Regions from separate parts of the Homo sapiens genome. Here regions 1 and 3 are each linked to region 2. Evidence: fine-mapped expression QTL. A gene starts in region 2. Each other region holds a variant in brackets. All regions are shown on one strand. Distances are between the middles of the regions. Region 1 overlaps SLC22A23 (solute carrier family 22 member 23). Region 2 holds the start of SLC22A23 (solute carrier family 22 member 23). Region 3 overlaps SLC22A23 (solute carrier family 22 member 23).

Region 1 (6,204 bases), 100 kb after region 2:
GTAGATGAGCCAGAAATTGAGAGTAAATTTGGGAAGGCACAGAAAGGACTGACCAGGCATCAAGTGGCCTAGCTCTGGAGCCTGGGAGTGGGGCTGATACAGGGAGCGGGGCGGGAGGGCCCAGACCTAGCCCAGACTCATGAGAACGGTAACCTTGTTATGACCTTGGCCTTCACACAATAACTTCCCTCTGCCCAGCAACGTCCTGTTCTCTTATACACATGGTAAGAGGGAAAATATCTATCTATAAATACATTTATATTTCTAAGAGATCATCATGGAGATTTTTTTTCTCGACCCAGGGAGGGTTGCTTTGTTGCATAGAACAGGGTGTGACGAACCCACGAGCAGCATGCTTGTCTTCCTCCCGTCTTTTAAGTTCAAAGGCTTCTCACTGTACCTAATAAGTCGATGTCTTTACTGATATTATTTCTGATTTCCAGTTTGAAGATGAGAAAACTGGTGGTTATCAAGGCCTCTCTATTCATCCCATTTTATTTGAAGAGCTACTGGATAGTATTTGGAGGGAGACTTTTTTTTTTTTAGCTGGGGAGGGTGGCGGCCACAAAGACAGGGAGCTGTTTCCAAGCAGATAGAGGGTAGGAGCCCAAAGATAAGGATTTGAATACTGCCATGTGGAGAGGCGCTGGTTTTTTTTGTTTGTGTTTTTATAAACTCGGTAGTAGGAATATCTTTTATTGTTTTTCCTGTTGCCTGTTTAAAGGAAAGAGTGTAGCACAAATTGTCCAAATGCCTTGTGCTTTTAGGGGCAGAGTTAGATACTGTCACCCTCTGGCCCTCAGGTCCTGCTTTGTCTGTTCTGCGTGTTGTCTACCCATGAACTAATGAGGCTGCCTGCTTAATTGACCTGGAAAGACAAGTGTCAGTTGAAGAAGATGATGTTGAATTATGAGATTCAGAAACCCATTACATGGCTACTTGGCCCAGCATAGTACCTTCCCCATTTGTTAGACATTCACTATTTGATTAATTAGTAAGAAATTAGAGATGGTGTGGATCATTGAAATCTAGAGCAACCCCTCCAACACCTTGACTTCCCCCTAACACTCTTACTGGGACATCAACTAAAAACAGACTGTGTTTCAGTTCATCCATTGCTTTACCCACTAATAAATGGTTCACCCATCCTTTCTTGAGTGCCTGCTGGATGCTGGGTCTCTTGAGGATGGAAAGACATTGCCTTGCCTTTGAGGCACAGAGTCTCTGCTATATCGATGGATCTGACCACAGTACAGTGGTCACTACAATCGAGGAACTTATTAAATGCAGCAGGGACATGGAAAGAGAATCTGAATCTTCTTGAGATTTTCTTTTGTTTACCCAACCCACCTCATGTAAAGATGTAAAGGTACACAAGTCAAGAGAAGGAAAAGTCTGTGAGTGCCTTTAGTCACTTGCTCCTCCGTAAATGTGCACTTCCTGTTGAATTTACCTTTGAAGGGTCCTGAAAGGAGTGTCTTTGCCCATCCAATGCCCTGACTGCCTCTCCGTTGGGAGTGCACCATGCTATGTGTTTGTGTGAGCCTGTGTGTGTGTTTTGCTTAGAAGTTGCATGTGGCTCTTGTCTTGGCCATGCCAACTCTAAGGAGAAAACACATGTGATCACCATCGAAATTTCCACAATCCAATCAGGCCTGCCAAGGAGGTTTATGGGTCCAGATAAGTGGCTTAGCTACCTGTCACATCAAAGGATTCAGTCAACCGACCCAAGGACCAGCATTTTTCCTTGTGCCTTCTTAGAGAAAGTAAAGCAGCCCACGCATAGGAGACCTGGAAAAGTTGGTAGTCTGGGATCTGTAAGGAGCCTCTGCATGAGGCTTCCTCGATGCTGTCATGCTCTGGGCCAGAACTGGGGTCCTGGGAAACACTGGTGGTAGAAGGGAGAGTCTGCCTCTACTAAGAAGGTGGGGGAATGGTGTGGCTTCCTGAGGAGGGAGCTCTTGGGAACAGCAGCCCTGGAAGCCAGAAATCACGTGAGTACATTTGGGTGGCAGTGCACAGGGCAGAAGAGCCACATCACAGCTTCGGTAATGGGACGAGGCGAGCACAGCCCTTTACCTGGAAAGGCAGTGGTTGACTGATCTAGTGATTTGGGAGCAAAAATTCCAGTAGCCCTAGTCTTGTGATTTGCAGCTGAACTGTTTTCCTAATAGTCTTATACATGTGATTTTGTAAAGCATAATGAACACCTCAATCAAGCAGGTGACATCGTGAATCCCAGCATGAGGGTCACGGCATTTCCCATTGAGTGGGATTCAGGCCTGAAGCCAAACCGCTCAAGCCAGATGTTGAGACACAGGAAGTTATTTTAACTAAAATGCTGTAGAAGAGGGCAAGATTGGCAGCTGGGAGAATCAGGCAGCACCTCTTCATTGGGGAGCTGGCTGTGGTATAGGAAATCTAACACAGACGGAGTTTCCCTTTTTTTGTTCAAATGCTGGAAAACCAGGTTTTGGTTTAAGCAGCCAGGTAAAGGCCCACAGTTATGTGCCTTTTATGGCCCTTTGCCATCTTGCCTTCAAAATCTCCAAGAATAACAGATTATTCCTGTGAGCAGGGAAGTAATAATACTTACATGTAATTTTAGATTAGGCGGAGCACTCACAGGTGAGACTTTGCATCTCTTGACACGGTCTGGTCGTTGCTGAAGAACAGGGTAAAAAGTCTTACTTAAAATTTCAGGCAAAAAATGAATATAATCACTGTAGTATTTTCATACATATTTTGACCCTGTTCCTCAGCAACAAAGTCCTGTTGGGACAAGCTGACCACTGGGGGTTCTGGTAGCAAGGTGCAGGTCACGGGGGCGACTGATCTTCTCCCGGGTGTTTGCAGGGCACGCGGCTTGTCCATGCGTATCCAGGGAGCGTCTCTAAACTGCTGTTGGCTCTGGGTTTGCACTATGTGCTTTTCCTTCACTCAGATTAATTAAAGAATTGTCATTTCTCTGCTTTTTGAACACCTGTAAGCGACACCATTTATCCTCAGACCTCCAGGAAGCTTGGCAGTTTTCATATGCTGTGAGAGTATGATTTAAGGACTCAAGTGAGTCCATTTTCCATGATTCAGGTGAGTCCCAGTAGCAGGTTTCTCATTTTCAGATGGAAAAACAAGAATGGCAGAGATCAGAGCCTTTTCTCCCTTTTGTTATGGCCGGGGCTTGGTGTGTGCTCACCTGCTCTCTTTCTCTCTGTCTGTGTATTTGTGTGTCTGCAAGTATGCCTATGTGTGTATGTGGCCGTGT[A/G]TGTGAATGGGTCAATATGTGTCTGTGTGTGTCTGTGCATGCATGCCGGTGAGCTTCTGTGGCTGTGTCTGTGTGTGAGTGTGTCTGTGCATGTCTGTATGTGCTTGTGTTTGTGGCTGTGTGTGTGTGTGTCTGTGCATGTCTGTGTGTGCATGCTTGTAAGTGTCTATGGCTGTGTGTGTGTGTGTGTGTGCATGTCTGTGTGTGTATGTTTGTGAGTGTCTGTGTGTCTGTACATGTCCGTGTACGTGGTTTTCACTGTCAGAGCAGCAGGACAAGAGGCACTCTCACATCTCCTTCCACAACCTGCCCTGTTCCTCCCTTCCTTATCTGTGGTCCTGGTGGGCCTGGTTTTGCCATGGCCTCTGCCACCTCTCAGCACTCCAGCAGCCCTGCCTGGGGAGGGGAGGCCATGGAGTGCTTTCGCCTTGACGCCCATTTCAGAAACGGAGCAGCCTTACCAGTCGGGTGGTGGACAGTCATCCACCCAGAGCATCCCTCCCTGCTCTCCTGTTTGGTGTGGCCTAGATGGGAACTCCATCTGCCTCGAGGTGGTCCCCATGACTGCAGCAGCTCAGGCCTTGGCCCTGCTGCCCATCCTCCTGCTCACCTGGGGGTCATGTACATTTGATGAGAATGCATTAGAAACCTGGGTTTCCTGGCTCAGTCCTGAATGAAGTAGCAAGTCTCCTCGGGGACAGTTTTGATACCAAATAGCAGAAATATGGCTCCATAGGGCCCACCCTGTGGTACAGTGTGGCTGGGGGAGGAGATGGGTTACAGAATCTTTGAAGTGGCCAGTGACGTGTTCTTAGGCGAAAGCCAGGAAAGGTCGAGGGGAGAGAGGTTTCCAGAGCAGTGGGAGGGGTGGGCGGGAAGCCACAGAGAGGGCTGTTGACTGAGCCTGGATGACTGCTCATTAGTCCTGACCGTCCAGTACTTGTGGGCTGAACGTTCCCCGCTGCCTGGCACGCTCAGGGCAACCCCCAGGATTTGTGTTCATTGCCCAGCTCAGCCACCCCCACCCCATAAAATCTCAAGACTTGTCTTTCTGCCAGCACTAGCTGATAACATCAGATTATTTTTCCCCAACCCTTTTCCTTCGCCCCTTCGTTTTCCACCCTAAGAGGCTAAATTGCCTGGCATTTTCCACCGCACTCCGATTACACTGGACAAAGGGCCATCCGGCTAGAATGCTAATAGGGAGATTTTTTTTCCATCCTGCCTGAGCCTCACAAAAGCTGGGGGCTTTAACTGCGAGGGCCTCTCTAGCTCTCACTTTCTTTCCTGTAATTCTATACAAACGGCATTAGCCTTTTATGAGGTCTTTGTTTGTGGCCATTCTGAGGGTACTTTTCATCTCACATGGGTTTCTTGAATTTTAAGTGGAATTTGTTCAAATCGGCCTGGCCTTGCTTCTCCTGGAGGAAATGCAGGCTCACCATTATAAGTTAGTAAATTCAAAAGGGATTTTTTTTTTTAAGAAAAAAATCTTTCTCTTTCACCACAAATTAAATGCGTCAATAAGAGAAGATGATTAAAAATTCAAGTGCCCTTTGAAGATACAAGATGATTGACCTCAGAATGGGAGTGAGAAGGGCAGTGAGACCAGCTCCCCATTACCACCAAGAAATTCCATTTGTTTTCTCTCTCTGATGTGAAAATAACTCCGTCTCCCTTGAGGAATCTGCTCTCATAATAAAAATCACCATTTGCATTTTTTAAGTAATAATGCTGATTTTTCTGTTAGAAACTGAAGGATAACTAAAACATGCTGGCTCTGACAACCAGTTTGACGAATGGATCAGTTAATCCAGCCTGCAGCTGTCAAAGCTTCAGAGCAGGCATGGGCCAAGTTTTCTGCAAAGGGCCAGAACATGAATATTCTGGGCTGTGCAGGCCATACGGTCTCTGCCCCACCTACTACTCCCTGCTACTGCAACAGCAGCCATGGACAATCTGGAGGTGAATGAGTGTGACCGCATTCCACAAAAGCCGCATTTGTCGACACTAAAATTTCAATTTCACATAAACTTCACACAAGAGATATTATTCATCTTTTGGTTGTCTTGAACCATTTAAAAATGTCCATTCTTAGGGACGAGCTGAATAAAATCAGGCAGTGCATTGTACAAAAACAGCAGCCTTCAGCAGGATTTGGCCCGAGGGTCATAGTTTTCCAACCCTACTTTAGAGCAGCTTTTAAAACTGTAGTTTATGACACATTAGGGCTTGGGTTAAGGGTTATAGAATCCATCGGGTGGGTCCTGCCCAGCATTTTTAAAGAAAAAAATAGAATTAAGTGCATCACACACAATAAGGGTTAAGTATCGTTTCATGAAAATTTGGGGTGTGTGTGTGCATGCATGCTGAGTCACTATGCTGTGCAGTACTGGGAAATAATTTTCTATCAACCATGGTCCTACTCATCCACCAGACTTTTATGTGCTTCAAAGGACACAAAGACCAAGAACCAAGGGACTGTGAATGTACTTAGCCCCCAAGAGGGGATGAAGGCGACCGTGATCATCTGCCTTCGTGTATCACAGGAATCAAGAGCCCTGGAAGAGGTGCTCTGTCCCAGGTCTGTGATCAGAGAGCGATGGGAGCAATAAGCCACCACCTTATCTTTCCTGAAGATATCAGGTTGCTTGAGGCACTGCCCACTTCATATGAATTTCCTGCTTTCATGTTAGGCTTATTTCTGAGTAGTTCAAATAATTCATCTTCTCCACTCTGCTCTTCCACCTCCTGAGATTCAGTGATATTTAAAGCACTTGGGTGGTTGAGTATTCAATATTCTTCACCAAACAGAAATACAATAGTGTGTGGGAAGAAGGGCCATGCATTTTAATCTGATGAAAACAGCTCATGCCAGCTGTGACGGTTAGCCTAACTGCAAACTAGGCTGTGAGGAGGTGGAGGAGGAAGGAAGGTAT
Region 2 (6,204 bases):
TGACTTTCATTTCCTTTCCTTATTTTCTCAATTTTTAGAAAACTATAAACTGGTAGATTCTTTAACATACTTTCAAAGGAAAAGGGAATGACTCAGCTTCTTTATTAAGATCACTGGGTTCAGGATACTCACATAAATTTAGGGTCACAAACACAGCTACTTTTGGGGGCCAAATGTCATGCATGAGGGGCATGTGTCAGGCAGGGATGAGGGCAAGCTGGAGAGTGCCTGCTCATTTACTGCAGTCCAAGAAAGCACGGTCCTGCAAACATGGGGCATCAAAAGGACAATGGCTTCTGCTATGATGTTCAGAGAAGCCCAAAACACATTTTTTTCTAAGTATTCAATCTCCCAATTTTGAAATGTTAGCAATTATTTTCCTGAAAACATTGCCTATGGTCTGTGAGCTGCATTTGGCCTATAAGCCACCATCTGCAAGCCAATACTGCCCAAGAGAAGATAATATTGGGAGCTAATCCAGTAACCACAATGCCTTACAACAAGACATATAATTGTCAAATTCATTTCAAGTCTCATGTTGGCTGATCTGAGCACCATCTTTGAGAGATGAACAAACACAAAAAGGTTGCTTGATGATTTAAGAAACAAAGTAAACAGTTTGATGATTTGAATAGACAGTATCATCAAGTGATTAATAACTTGATACACTCATTTATTTGACAAAGATGTATTGAGTGCCTTGCATGTACCAGGCACTGTTTTAACCACCAAGCATACAGCTGAGCACAAGGCACCTATCCCCGAAGGTGCTTACATTCTAGAGGCAGAACGTAAATCTAACTAAGCAAACAAGAAAAATAGCAGCTGATGATAATGCTCATTCAGAAAATTAAAAACAGTAATTTTTTAACAGGTGTCTGGCTTTCCTATCCTGGTCCATGGATCTCAAACCTCACCCACTGAGGCTGTCAGAGTGTCAAATTCTTCCTCTTTACTCCTTTTGCTCACGTTATGAGATCACTTGTGGTATGTTTTAATAAATTGAAGGCCACTTTATTTTAAAGTAGTTACACTTTAATCTTCTTGACTAGATTTGGTGGAAATATCAATCCAGGAGGAATTTAGGGAAACCTCTAATCTAATCAACAGCTTAATTACAATGCCTGGGTCAGTGCTGCAGCTAGTTAATTTCAAACATTTTATGTTGCCTCCTTTTAGCTTCAGTTTTAGAGGATACCATTTTCCAGTGTGTCCCTAAATTCTAAGAATGTACCATTTGAGGATTTTTACCACCTTTTGCGAACAAAGACTAATAACATCTTCACAATGAAACTCTTTTCCTAGGGCCAGGGCTTCTCCCACGTAAAAATGCACATTAACAAACATCTTTGTAAACTCTTCCCTATAGTTGCCCCTGTATGATGAAATGGAGAAATCCGGTAATGTCCAGTCAGAAAATCTGGGTTCAAAACCAGATATTTGGCTCAGCTGGGGACCAACTCTTTGATCTGGTAGTCAGTCACCTGATCCTTGCTGTTTCTCTTTGAAAGCCCACTTCTTGGGGCGCTGAATGTGAGGACTGAGTGAGAGTGTGAATTTGAAAGCCAACTCTGAAACGCTGGCTATGATAGTTATTCTGATTGGAAGGGCCATTAAGGTCAATGGCAATGCTCCTTTTGTGATCAGTTACAAGAAAACAAATGGGTCCTTGTGACTGTGGGGGAAGGGAGGCAGAGCCAGACACAAAGTGGACCTCTTCTGGAAAATCAGCCACTGAAAGGAAAATAAATAAAATCCGTAAAGTTATATTTCAATTCAAAAAGAAATGTGGATTGTATGTAATGGCAAGAGGAGCACTGGTAATAATACATGTCTAACATTCATTGCGCACTTACTCTGTTCCAGGCATGGAGGTCAGAACTTTGCATGTATTAGCTCTTCAAATGAGGGGAGGAGAGGGAAGGAAAAGAAAAGTTAAGCTAATAAATAATGTGAAGTTGAAAAATTACCACGTACACAACGTGCACTATCGTGTCCCCCCCCGCCCCAAGCCCCCAGCTCTTTATATATGTGGTTTCCAGACCCATTTCTCAGCGGTCTGGTGTCTTTTGCAGCCCTTAGGGCCCCTTCCGCCCATTGTTATCTAATCACCCCTTCTCGGCCACGCAGGAAGGTCCACAACCTCCCCTGTCCCCCAAGACCCGCCCCCCGGCAGCCTTCAGAAATAGTTCTCTGGTACGTATGTGCCAGCATTTTATGCAGTAAACACATGTTGCCCTTAACACTGAACTGCAGGTTAAAAATGTATTCCACTAAATTGTGCAGCGGTTAGCTGAGCAAATAATGAAAATGCAAAAGAATACATTCAGTATATGGAGCTTAGAATATATCCTTTTGGAAAGCTAAACATTTTTTTTTTTTTTGCCCCAAATAAGACTAGAAATGGATTGCTCCATTTAAGACTTCCATTAATAAACTTCTCAGAATATGAAATGCCTCCAAAATGTGGGGACGCTGGGTTGAAAGGTGCCGGATAATTCTCTTTGGTGCGTGCGCTGGGTGCAGGAGGAAATATGCTAATGTAGCCGTTTGCCGCAGGGCTGGTGTTATTTATACAGCGCTGGCTGGGCAAGGTTGGCGCTGGAGCAGGAGAGGAGGGAGAGGTTTGTCTTCTTGTGTGAGAGTATAGATGTGTGCGCCTGTGCACACGGCGTTCCAAACGTGAATACAAGATCTTAGGGAGGGGGTGGGGAATGCCATCACGTTTATACTGTGTGTATTATAACTTGTGTTGGAGATATATCCCAGCATCGTGCTTACATCGCATGCACTTAGGAGTGGGGGAAGAAATGGCGATTTGGGAGTGGGTGCGGCGGGTCGCAGGTGGCCAGACACTGCGGGGGACTGGCGACCTGAAATTGGCAAAGGCGCCTCCTTGACCCTGCTCCACGGACACAAAAATCAACCTTATTCGCTCCTGGAAAAAGCGCAGAGGGTTGTTCCCGAAGGCTGAAGACCCTCGGGCTTGGGACTGGGAGCGGGGCGCGGGCAGCGGGACCGCCGGGCACCTCTGAAGAGACAGAGGTCACGGAGACCTGGCGCGCGCGGAGTGGGTGGGGGGCCCGCGCGGCTGCGGGAGCCCAGCCTCAGAGAAGACCCGGCCCACACGTTCTCAGCGCACGCCGACTTTGCCGGGACCCGTCGCCGGCCGGCGACCCCTGCTACGCGCGTCTCCTCCTCCCCCGCCCCGCCCGGCGCGAAACGGGCAACGGGCAGGGGATCCTCCAGCCAGGCGGGCCCGGGGTGTCCCGTTTCCCCCGCCCCCCTCCCGTGGATCCCGGGCGGCGGCGGCCGCGCGTCCGGGCTGGAGGGGGCGCTCGCGAGCAGGAGCCGAGCGCAGCAGGTGCCGCGGTTACCTCCACCTCGGCGGGGGGAGAGGGGGCGGGCCGGGGGGCAGGGAGGAGGGGGAGGAGGAGGAGGAGGAGGAGGAGTGGGGCCGGCTCCAGGAGCTGGAGAGCGCGGCCGGCTCGGCAGGCTGGGTCCAGAGCTCGCGGCTTCCGGGAGGCGCCCGAAGTCGGAGAAATACAGCGCGGCCACCCCGGGAGCAGCAGCCTTTGCCCGCACCGCCGCCCGCAGGGCCCTGAACCGCCGGCAAGGGCGCGGGCCGGGCGCGGCGCCGGCTCCTCCTCCTGCCGCGTCCGGCGCGGAGCAGCGGAGAGCGGCGGGCTCGGCAGCCGGCGCCCGGGCCGCGGAACTGATGAGCCGCGGCGGCTGAGGGCCCGGCCGGCCTCTGCCCGCCTCTGCCCGGCGCCCGAGCGGGGCCGCAGCGCCCGGGGCGCGGGGTCCGGCGGGTGACATGGGGGCGGCCTGACGCACCCGGAGCCGCCGAGCGCTCTCTCTCGAGCCGCGGGCCCTCCTCGGCGGCAGCGGCTGCAGGCGCCTGGCCCGGCGCGCTGTGCCCGGGGCGCCCGCGGAGCCTCCGCCGCGCTCTATGCGCCTCTGCGGGAGCCGCGGGCCCGGGCCATGGCCATAGACCGGCGGCGCGAGGCGGCGGGCGGCGGGCCTGGGCGGCAGCCGGCCCCGGCCGAGGAGAACGGCTCCCTGCCGCCCGGGGACGCGGCGGCCTCGGCGCCCCTCGGGGGACGCGCGGGCCCCGGCGGCGGCGCGGAGATCCAGCCGCTGCCCCCACTGCATCCTGGAGGCGGCCCGCACCCGAGCTGCTGCTCCGCGGCTGCGGCCCCGAGCCTCTTGTTGCTGGACTATGACGGGTCGGTGCTGCCCTTCCTCGGGGGCCTGGGCGGGGGCTATCAGAAGACCCTCGTGCTGCTCACCTGGATCCCGGCGCTGTTCATCGGCTTCAGCCAGTTCTCGGACTCGTTCCTCCTGGACCAGCCCAACTTCTGGTGCCGCGGGGCCGGCAAAGGCACCGAGCTGGCAGGGGTCACCACCACAGGCCGGGGCGGGGACATGGGCAACTGGACCAGCCTCCCCACCACCCCCTTCGCCACTGCCCCCTGGGAGGCTGCGGGCAACCGGAGCAACAGCAGCGGCGCGGACGGAGGCGACACACCACCCCTGCCATCCCCTCCGGACAAGGGGGACAACGCCTCCAACTGTGACTGCCGCGCATGGGACTACGGCATCCGCGCCGGCCTCGTCCAGAACGTGGTCAGCAAGGTAAGGGCCGCAGCCGCCCAGTCCCTCCAACCCTCTCCCTGCAGACCGAGGTCCAAGCCCGAGCCAGCGGGAGAACCGAAGTCCCCAAAGTGGTGGTGCTAGAGTGTGTGTAGGGCATTCCGCATTGGCTTAATCTCCTTCCGTCCCCCAAACCACATGCCTTTACTTGGGTGTAAAGGGAGCACCATAGCCTTTACTAGTTTGCACCCAAACTCCTGTCCCAGTACGCGGATGGAAAGCGCGCCCTTCCCCCACCCTCGGGGCGAGGCAGCTGACCTGTCACCAGCCCCCTCTGGAGGAGTCGGACTGGCGTCGTTCAAGGTCTGCTGGGGGAGTCGGGACCACAGCCCTGTTCTGCCCGGCTAGTTGTCCCTGGGTCTCCCACAAAGCAATAGTCTTCCATCTCGCACTTGATTTTGACACAGGTAAAGCCTACTAAAGAACTGGAGAGCCAGAGAAGCAAAGACTCCTGCAAATCCCCAACCCGCAGCCGATGCTTAGTCCTCCCCAAAGATATCTGACTTTAGGCTTTGCTACCCCAGTGTCTCCTCCCATGTTTTCTCAGCACTTCAGTAAACATCACTACAGTATAGGAAGGACGCGGAGAATATGTCATTTGGGTGTTCCCCGGCCGTCACCGCTCTTACACAGCAGCTGCTTTGGGCTGAGGCACTGAGAACGGGGGTGTGCTTTAGCTGAAACATGCACCTTGTCCTCTGAGTCCTGTAGCTAAAGCTCCCTTGCAGAGGTATTGCGTGGTGTGAAATGTAGCAGAAGGGAGTTGTGAGACAAGTGTGAAGGCCTAAACACAGAGTGGGCAATGGTGGACACTCAATGCCCCTAGACAGCTGTAATTTTATTCTTAACATATAAGAGATATCAAGACATTTGTAGTTTTGCTCCTTGTGTCTAAACTAATTAATTCACATTTTAAAGTAAATACAGACTCTCCTCCACCCCACCCGCTACCCATTCTGGGCTGTTCTGGCAGAGTTTTAAATGCTTTGTCGAAATGTATGAAATTGGACAGTTTTAAATAGTCAATGTGCATGTAACCTCCTCCCCCCGTGTGCATTGGTTAACAGTTGTAGCTCATGGATGTGTAAGATAAACTCTTACATCATCATAATCATTGTTTTAATCTTGTACCAACCTGGCCAGAAATGCTCTGTCCTGTGGGAACTGTCTGACTGAGCTGCCCCTGCTGCCCTGCAAGGTAATGGGGAAGGTCCTTCTAGCTGGGTTCACCTTGATCCCACCCACCTCCTACCCCCTGCTTTCTAAAGGTGTTTCTGTGACTGTTTTCCCTTCACGGAGGGCAATATTTCTTTGTTGGTTTAGCAGCAAAGAAAAATTAAGAACAATGACTATTTAAATCACTGTGTATGTCTGACAGACTGAGGATTTGGCAACATTGTTAAGTATTTCAAGTGTCTTTCTAGAGCAGAGGGAGAATAATGGATCAAAGTGAGTATGTGTGAAGAGCGCTGTGTCCTGGGGTCAAAGTAGAGGTGAACTTGAAAGTGATGAGATGGGATAGAGTGCCATTACCTTGGCAGTGAGGAC
Region 3 (6,204 bases), 97 kb after region 2:
GTCCTGGGGTGTCACAGTCCCCCGAGGAGGAAGCCTGGGCCCTGTCTTAGGTCCTGTTCTGGCGGTGGCCTGGCCCCTGGGACAGAGCCCTACAGACAATTGCTGACCATTCAATCCTGCTGTGACACATGTGCTGTGCTGCCGGAGCTCACCCATTGCTGCTGCGCCTGGTGAGGATGGGCCAGCCAGGGCTGCAGGAAAAGAAAACTGACTTTGGTAGAGGGGAGACCCAACTGCTTTTGTATTTTGTGTTAATTTAAAATGGCAAAGATATAAGTCACAAAAAACATGCCCCTGCCTGAGTGTGCTATGCCTCATGTCCCAGCTGAGCGGAGAGCCCATTTCTGATGCTCATCAGAAGTTGCAGGCAGTGGGCTGCGGGATGTCCCACCGAGTGCTGAGCAGGTCAAGTGGGAATGCAGATCAAAACTCTCTTCCTTGGGCTCTGAGCAGTCCAGAGTTTAAAGGTTGTTAATTGGCCAAGCCTATTTAATATTTCATTCACGCGCACATGGAAACAAAGAGGTGGTCATGGCAAAAGCTGGCACAGGACATTCCCCTGTCCCACCACCCCATTCCCCTTGCCCTCAAAATCTTTATTCGATGGTCCTTAATGTCTGCATTTCATTCATGCTTCCTCTCCTGGGTCCTGGAGGTCTACCTGCTTCTGGGACCTGCAGCCTTTCTCCATGGAGAGAGCTGGGCTCTGGTTCTCCCATCCTCACTCTGTGTAGTGGAGAGACGGAGAGGCCAGATTTGTAGATGGCATCTTGGGGGTTCTGCCTGGCCCCAGAGTTCCATTCCTTTGTTACCTTGCTAAGGAGATGGGATGGGGGGCTTTGCTGTGCTCATTAATCTCAATCCCATGGAGCCCAGGGCCATGAAGAGATCTCAGAAAGGTCATGGCCTTTGCCTGGTTAACAACTGTTTGGTTCAGGAAACAGTATCCTTGGTGGGTGTTTCAATCCCTGATGAAAATGCATGCTAATTTTTATTTTTTATTTTTTATTTTATTTTTTTTTTTTGTGAGACGGAATCTCGCTCTGTCGCCCAGCCTGGAGTGCAGTGGTGTGATCTCGGCTCACTGCAACTTCTGCCTCCCGGATTCAAGCGATTCTCCAGCCTCAGCTCCCGAGTAGCTGGGACTACAGGCGCATGCTACCACGCCCAGCTAATTTTTTGTATTTTAGTAGAGACGGGGTTTCACCATGTTGCCCAGGCTGGTCTCGAACTCCTGAGCTCAGGCAATCCACCCACCTCGGCCTCTCAAAGTCCTAGGATTACAGGCGTGAGCCACCACACCTGGCCGCTAATTTTTTTAAAGTTTGCTTAAAAAAAAAATTTATTTTTCCCTAGAGGACCTCACAGAGCCTTTAATTTGCTGACAAGCACATGAATCTGAAGGGAAGGTGTATAGAATGATCTGATAGGTTTCCTCCATGTTTCTACAGTCCTTGTGTGCACTCTGGCATGACCATCAGCATGTGGCAGTGTGGTGTTGGATTTGGAGTATTTTCCATGCCTGATTGTAAATCCCTCGGGGTAGGGACCATGTCTTCATCTCCCTAGGTCGTAGCGTGAGAACCGGCACGTGTTTCCCGCTTGACAGGTGTCCCAGCCGTGGAGGCCTTTGCGATCTGTTGAGATGGCCTCATGTTTCTTCTTGCCCCCACAATGTGATTCAGCAAAAAGACAACTGGGTAACAGACGCATGGAGCAGTATTTCTTGGATCCCATGGGGCTTGCTGTGTTGAGACTGGGCTTTCGAGTCTGAATTCAACTGAGAGTGAGGTGTTGCTGATGCAGAGAGACTCATGGGCCCAGCCCCTTGTCCTCTGTAAAGCTGGGAACAGAAGCTAAGTCTGGAGAGTCGAACCCCAGAGTTTTAGAGATAGAACTGATAGGCAGGTCGCCGTTCTCCTGGGACCCCAGTCTTTGTGGCCTTTCCCAGCAGCTGAACTTTGGACCCCTCTCTCTGTGACATCCTGCTCCTAACCTGGCCACATGATGCTGCTTGAGAATCCAGCCACAGCCTGAGCCAGGACAGCTCTCAAGAGAGGAGGACAGGCTGTGGGATGAACGGTCATGGCCACAGATGGAAGGGACCCAATTCCTTAAAAAAAAAAAAAAAAAGAATGATGTAGGAGTCTTTAAGCTTCTCTAAAGGGCAGGGCTTGGGGGTCCCTGTGTCCCTCTTATTGAAGCACGTTTCCCTCTCTTTTTTTTCAGTAGAAAGACAGTTGAGGGGGTGTGTTCTGTGTGACACTGCTGCAGGCTCCTTTGGGGGAGAAACCCTGATCTAAGTCACAGCTGGTTGGGGTCTTAAGTCCTTAAGCAGTTTAACTTGGGGTCAGGCATAAAATGGGGGGGGTGGGTAGAAATAGAAAATATACAAACAACAGGAATATAAAATGTGGGACACCTTCTGTGGCCTGGACATCCCTGCTGCCTCGAGCTCCCCGCAGCTGCTGATGTTCGCTAGCGCCTCTCGTCACCCCAGTACCACGCTCTGACCTTCTGTTCCTGCTGCACCTGTTCCCCACCCCAGCATCTTTGCCCGAGGGAAGGCTTCGTCCAATCCCGTTCCCGCCCTGGATGACCACGCCAGCTGTGGGCCTGCCTGGCCGAACGCAGGTCTCCATCAGAGGGGCCCGTCTGCATGGGGGTGCCTGCACACCTGTCGTGTCGACATCACTGAGGACCCCTTGGGGGCTCAGGCCAGCTTGAGGGCCTCTTTGTCTCCTAAATAACTGGGACAGTATCTGGGGCTTAGATGAGCAGTCAGCATAGCAATAAGTGACCGGAAATACAGAGATGTGTGGACTAAGACTGTTGAGGTTGACTC[G/A]GATGTGTGCAAAGGCCCCAAAGTGACCTCCCTCCACGGTTGAGCCGTTGCCTGAAACCCGACTATGAGAATGCAGTTCTGTATTTTAAGGCAGATGAGACAAATGCCCCCAAGAATGGCAATGCAGTGAGCTCTGTGACTCACCTCACCTCCTGGTGATTGAGCCTTTCTGATCCTCCTGAGTTTAAGGATCCTTGGGTGGATGGGTGGGCGGGGCACAGCTGAGGTCAGAGCTCTCAAAGGCCAATACTACGGACTTGCCTTTTTTGTTGTTGTTTTATTTGGAGGGGGGTGTTTGTTTTATCATGGTAAAATAAACATAGCATAAAAATTACCATTTTAACTACTTTTAATTGTACCATTCAGTGGCATTAAGTAATTCACATTTTTACACAGCCATCACCACCCTTCATCTCTAGAGGTCTTTTCATCTTCCCAAACAAACTCTGTCCCCAATAAACACTCCCCATTCCCATCCCTTAGTCCCGAGCAGCCACCCTTCTACTTTCTGTTTCTATGAATTTGCCTACCTAAGAACCTATTTAAGTGGATCATGCAATATTTGTCCTTTTGTGACTGGCTTACTTCACTTAGCATAATGTCTTCAGGATTCCCTCAGAACAAGGACCTCTAAGGACAAAAATAAGTGAAAATAAGAAAAAAAGAAAAAATGCTTCCTTTATACTATAGCATATGTTGGATATGGCCTCCCTTTTTAAGGCTGAGTTATATTTCATCCTCTGGATGGATCACATTTTCTTATCCATTCATCTGTTGATGGACACCTGCGTTGCTCCCACCTTTTGGCTGTTGTGAATATGCTGCCGTGAACATAGGTGTGCAAATATCATTTCAGGTCCTTGCTTTCACTTTTGGGGGGTTATACCCAAAAGTGGCATTGCTGAGTCAGATGGTAATCCTCTGTTTAATTCTATGAAGAACAGGGATATTGTTTTCTCCAGTTGGCTGCACCGTTGTACATTCCCACCAGGAATGTACTGGTGCACCAGGGTTCCAGTTTCCCCACATTCTTGTCAGCACTTGTTATTTCCTGTTTGTTTGACAGCAGCTACCATCCTGATGGATGTGAAGGGCTACCACATTGTCGCTGTGATGTACATTTCCCCGATGACAGTGACGTTGAGCATCTTTCCATGTGCTTCTTGGCCATCTGTATGTCCTCTTCAGTTTTTGTTTTGTTTTAAACTTGCACTCAGATGGATAGTTATATGTGTGACCTAAGGAGAACCACTCAGTGATGAAGAATAAACGTGGCAACACCAGCTAGCATAGCTTAGCAGCATCTGTTATCTGCCTGAGGGCGGTGAATTCCCAGTGAGATGCTCATTCTAGTACTGTCCTAGAATGAAATGAGTCTCAGCTGGCATGTTCCTCGCTCTCCTTCTCGGTGCCCATCTTTTTCTTAGTTGAAATGATCTGTGATTCTGGATGCAGCCCGTGTTGTTCTGGGACGTCTCTGTATTGCACTAAATTAATAAAGGAGCTTTCATTTTTGCAGTTATGTATTTTGAATTCCCTATTCTCTCTTCATCCTGAATGACTGAGACTTGATTAGACATCGGCACAGCGCACCTGACATGGCGCTGACATGGAAATGCAATGGGTGGCAGCTCGGGGTGCAGACCCCACCCAGGATGCTGTGCCCGAGGGGAGCCAGGGCTTCCCTTTGAAATGGCAAAGGTTCCCACCATCCCTCCAGCCCCCGATGGCAGATCCCTTCTCACTTCTTCCTCACTGGAGCTGTGACTCCTTCCGGTGTTTTCCTTGGGTTGATGAAACAGAAACTCTCCTGGGGCCTTTTTTATTTTATTTTTTAATTTTATTTGTGGTAAGAACATCTAACATGAGACCCACCCTCTTAACAGGTTTTTTCAGTGTACAGCACAGTATCGTGAACTATAGACACAATGTGTGCAGCAGAGTTCCAGAGCTTATTCATCTCGCCTGCCTGAAAGCTGATGCTAGTTGACGAGCAACTCCCCATGTCTCCCTCCCTCTACCCCCGGCAACCATCAGCCCACTCTTTGATTTTCTGAATTTGCCTATTTTTACATGCCTCATGTAAGTGGAATCATGTAGTATTTGTCCTTCTGTGACTGGCTTATTTCACTTAACATAATTCCTCCAAGTTCATCCACGTGTCGTACGTGTCAGAATTTCATTCGTTCTTAAGCGGAATCATATTCTATTGTATTTTTCACTGTGTTTCGTGTGTCCCTTCACCTATCAGTGGACCTCTGCGTTGTTTCCATATCTTGGCTGTTGTGGATAACACTGCAGTGAACGTGGGAGCGCTCACGTCAAGTGCTTTGAGATCCTAATTTCAATTCTTTTGGATAAGTACCTGGAAGTAGAATCACTGGATCATATGGCAGTTCTAGTTTTAGTTTTTTGAGGAACTGCCATACTGTTTTCCATAATGGCTGCACCATTTTTGCATCCCTACCAACAGTGTTTAAAGGTTCCAATTTCTCTCCATCCTGGGGACTTTGATACTGAGAACCTAACCTGTCTAGCCTCTTCTGCACTGGCCGCCTTTGCAAGAGCTGGTTGCCTCTCTGAAAACTCTCCTCCCAGGCCTCTTCCCTTCCCCTCACCCACATGGCAGGACAGTCCTACTTCCTTTTCCCTTAAGGGAAGATTCAAATGCTGCTTCTTTGGTGAAGTCTTCCCCAGGCCTCGTCCCTTTCTTTGCATTCCTGTAGCACAGAACCCCATCTGTGTCTTATAGGCACGTGTCTCTTCATCAGACTGTGAGCCCCTTGAGGCCGGTGGTGTGGCTTCATCTCGGCATCTCCCCTGGCATGGTGCTACCTCATCCTCCTTGCTGAATAAGTGAATGAAATGCATTCATTATACACAGCCGCCTTCTGTTTTCCATTATTTGTCATTATTCAGTGTGTTCTGTGAACCAGGAGCTGGGCATGGCTTGTTGAATAAGAACACAGTCCCTAAACTAAGGAGCTTTTAGGCTGGTAACCAAAAAGGGAAATTCTAAATTTTTTTATGATAAGCTTTTAGATATCTTTTTGATATTTAGAATGAAGTAAACACAGTAGATGTAGTCCAATTTTGGAAATCATTTAAGACCTGAGCCTAATTGAGCAGGTAGAAAGCCAGGAAGAACACACCTACTTTGTATTTGCAGTCCTTTCCTCATGCTAATTGATAAGGCGATTAATCCTTACACTATTGCTGAGCCACAACCCCATTTAAAAATAAAAATTAGGAAAGCTGTCTGGATAATTATTAGCAAAGACTTTACAGAGGCTGGGATAAGTCCTCCAGCTGGTTGTTTGCACTGGGAGTTTTACAGTGTACTTGACCTTTGCTTAAGG

Evidence for each region.
Region 1: its variant is fine-mapped to the expression of SLC22A23 in whole blood (TOPMed, PIP above 0.99).
Region 3: its variant is fine-mapped to the expression of SLC22A23 in whole blood (TOPMed, PIP above 0.99).

What each region holds. Positions count from the first base shown.
Region 1 is chr6:3,349,526-3,355,729 of GRCh38, reverse strand. All of the region lies in intron 3 of SLC22A23 (solute carrier family 22 member 23), which reads left to right. Among named protein-coding and RNA genes, the nearest start is that of PSMG4, 94 kb to the right of the region's middle. RefSeq lists an enhancer at 3,707-6,204. The variant A/G (reference allele first, on the strand shown) is at 3,266.
Region 2 is chr6:3,454,340-3,460,543 of GRCh38, reverse strand. It overlaps SLC22A23 (solute carrier family 22 member 23), which reads left to right and starts at 3,494. Exons shown (of 10, transcript NM_015482.2): 1 at 3,494-4,638. The coding sequence starts at 3,985. LOC643327 (a long non-coding RNA gene) reads right to left here and starts at 4,841. Exons shown (of 2, transcript NR_147844.1): 1 at 4,293-4,841. RefSeq lists silencers at 3,217-3,436, 3,497-3,726.
Region 3 is chr6:3,357,226-3,363,429 of GRCh38, reverse strand. The region is part of intron 3 of SLC22A23 (solute carrier family 22 member 23); the gene reads left to right. Among named protein-coding and RNA genes, the nearest start is that of SLC22A23, 97 kb to the left of the region's middle. The variant G/A (reference allele first, on the strand shown) is at 2,846.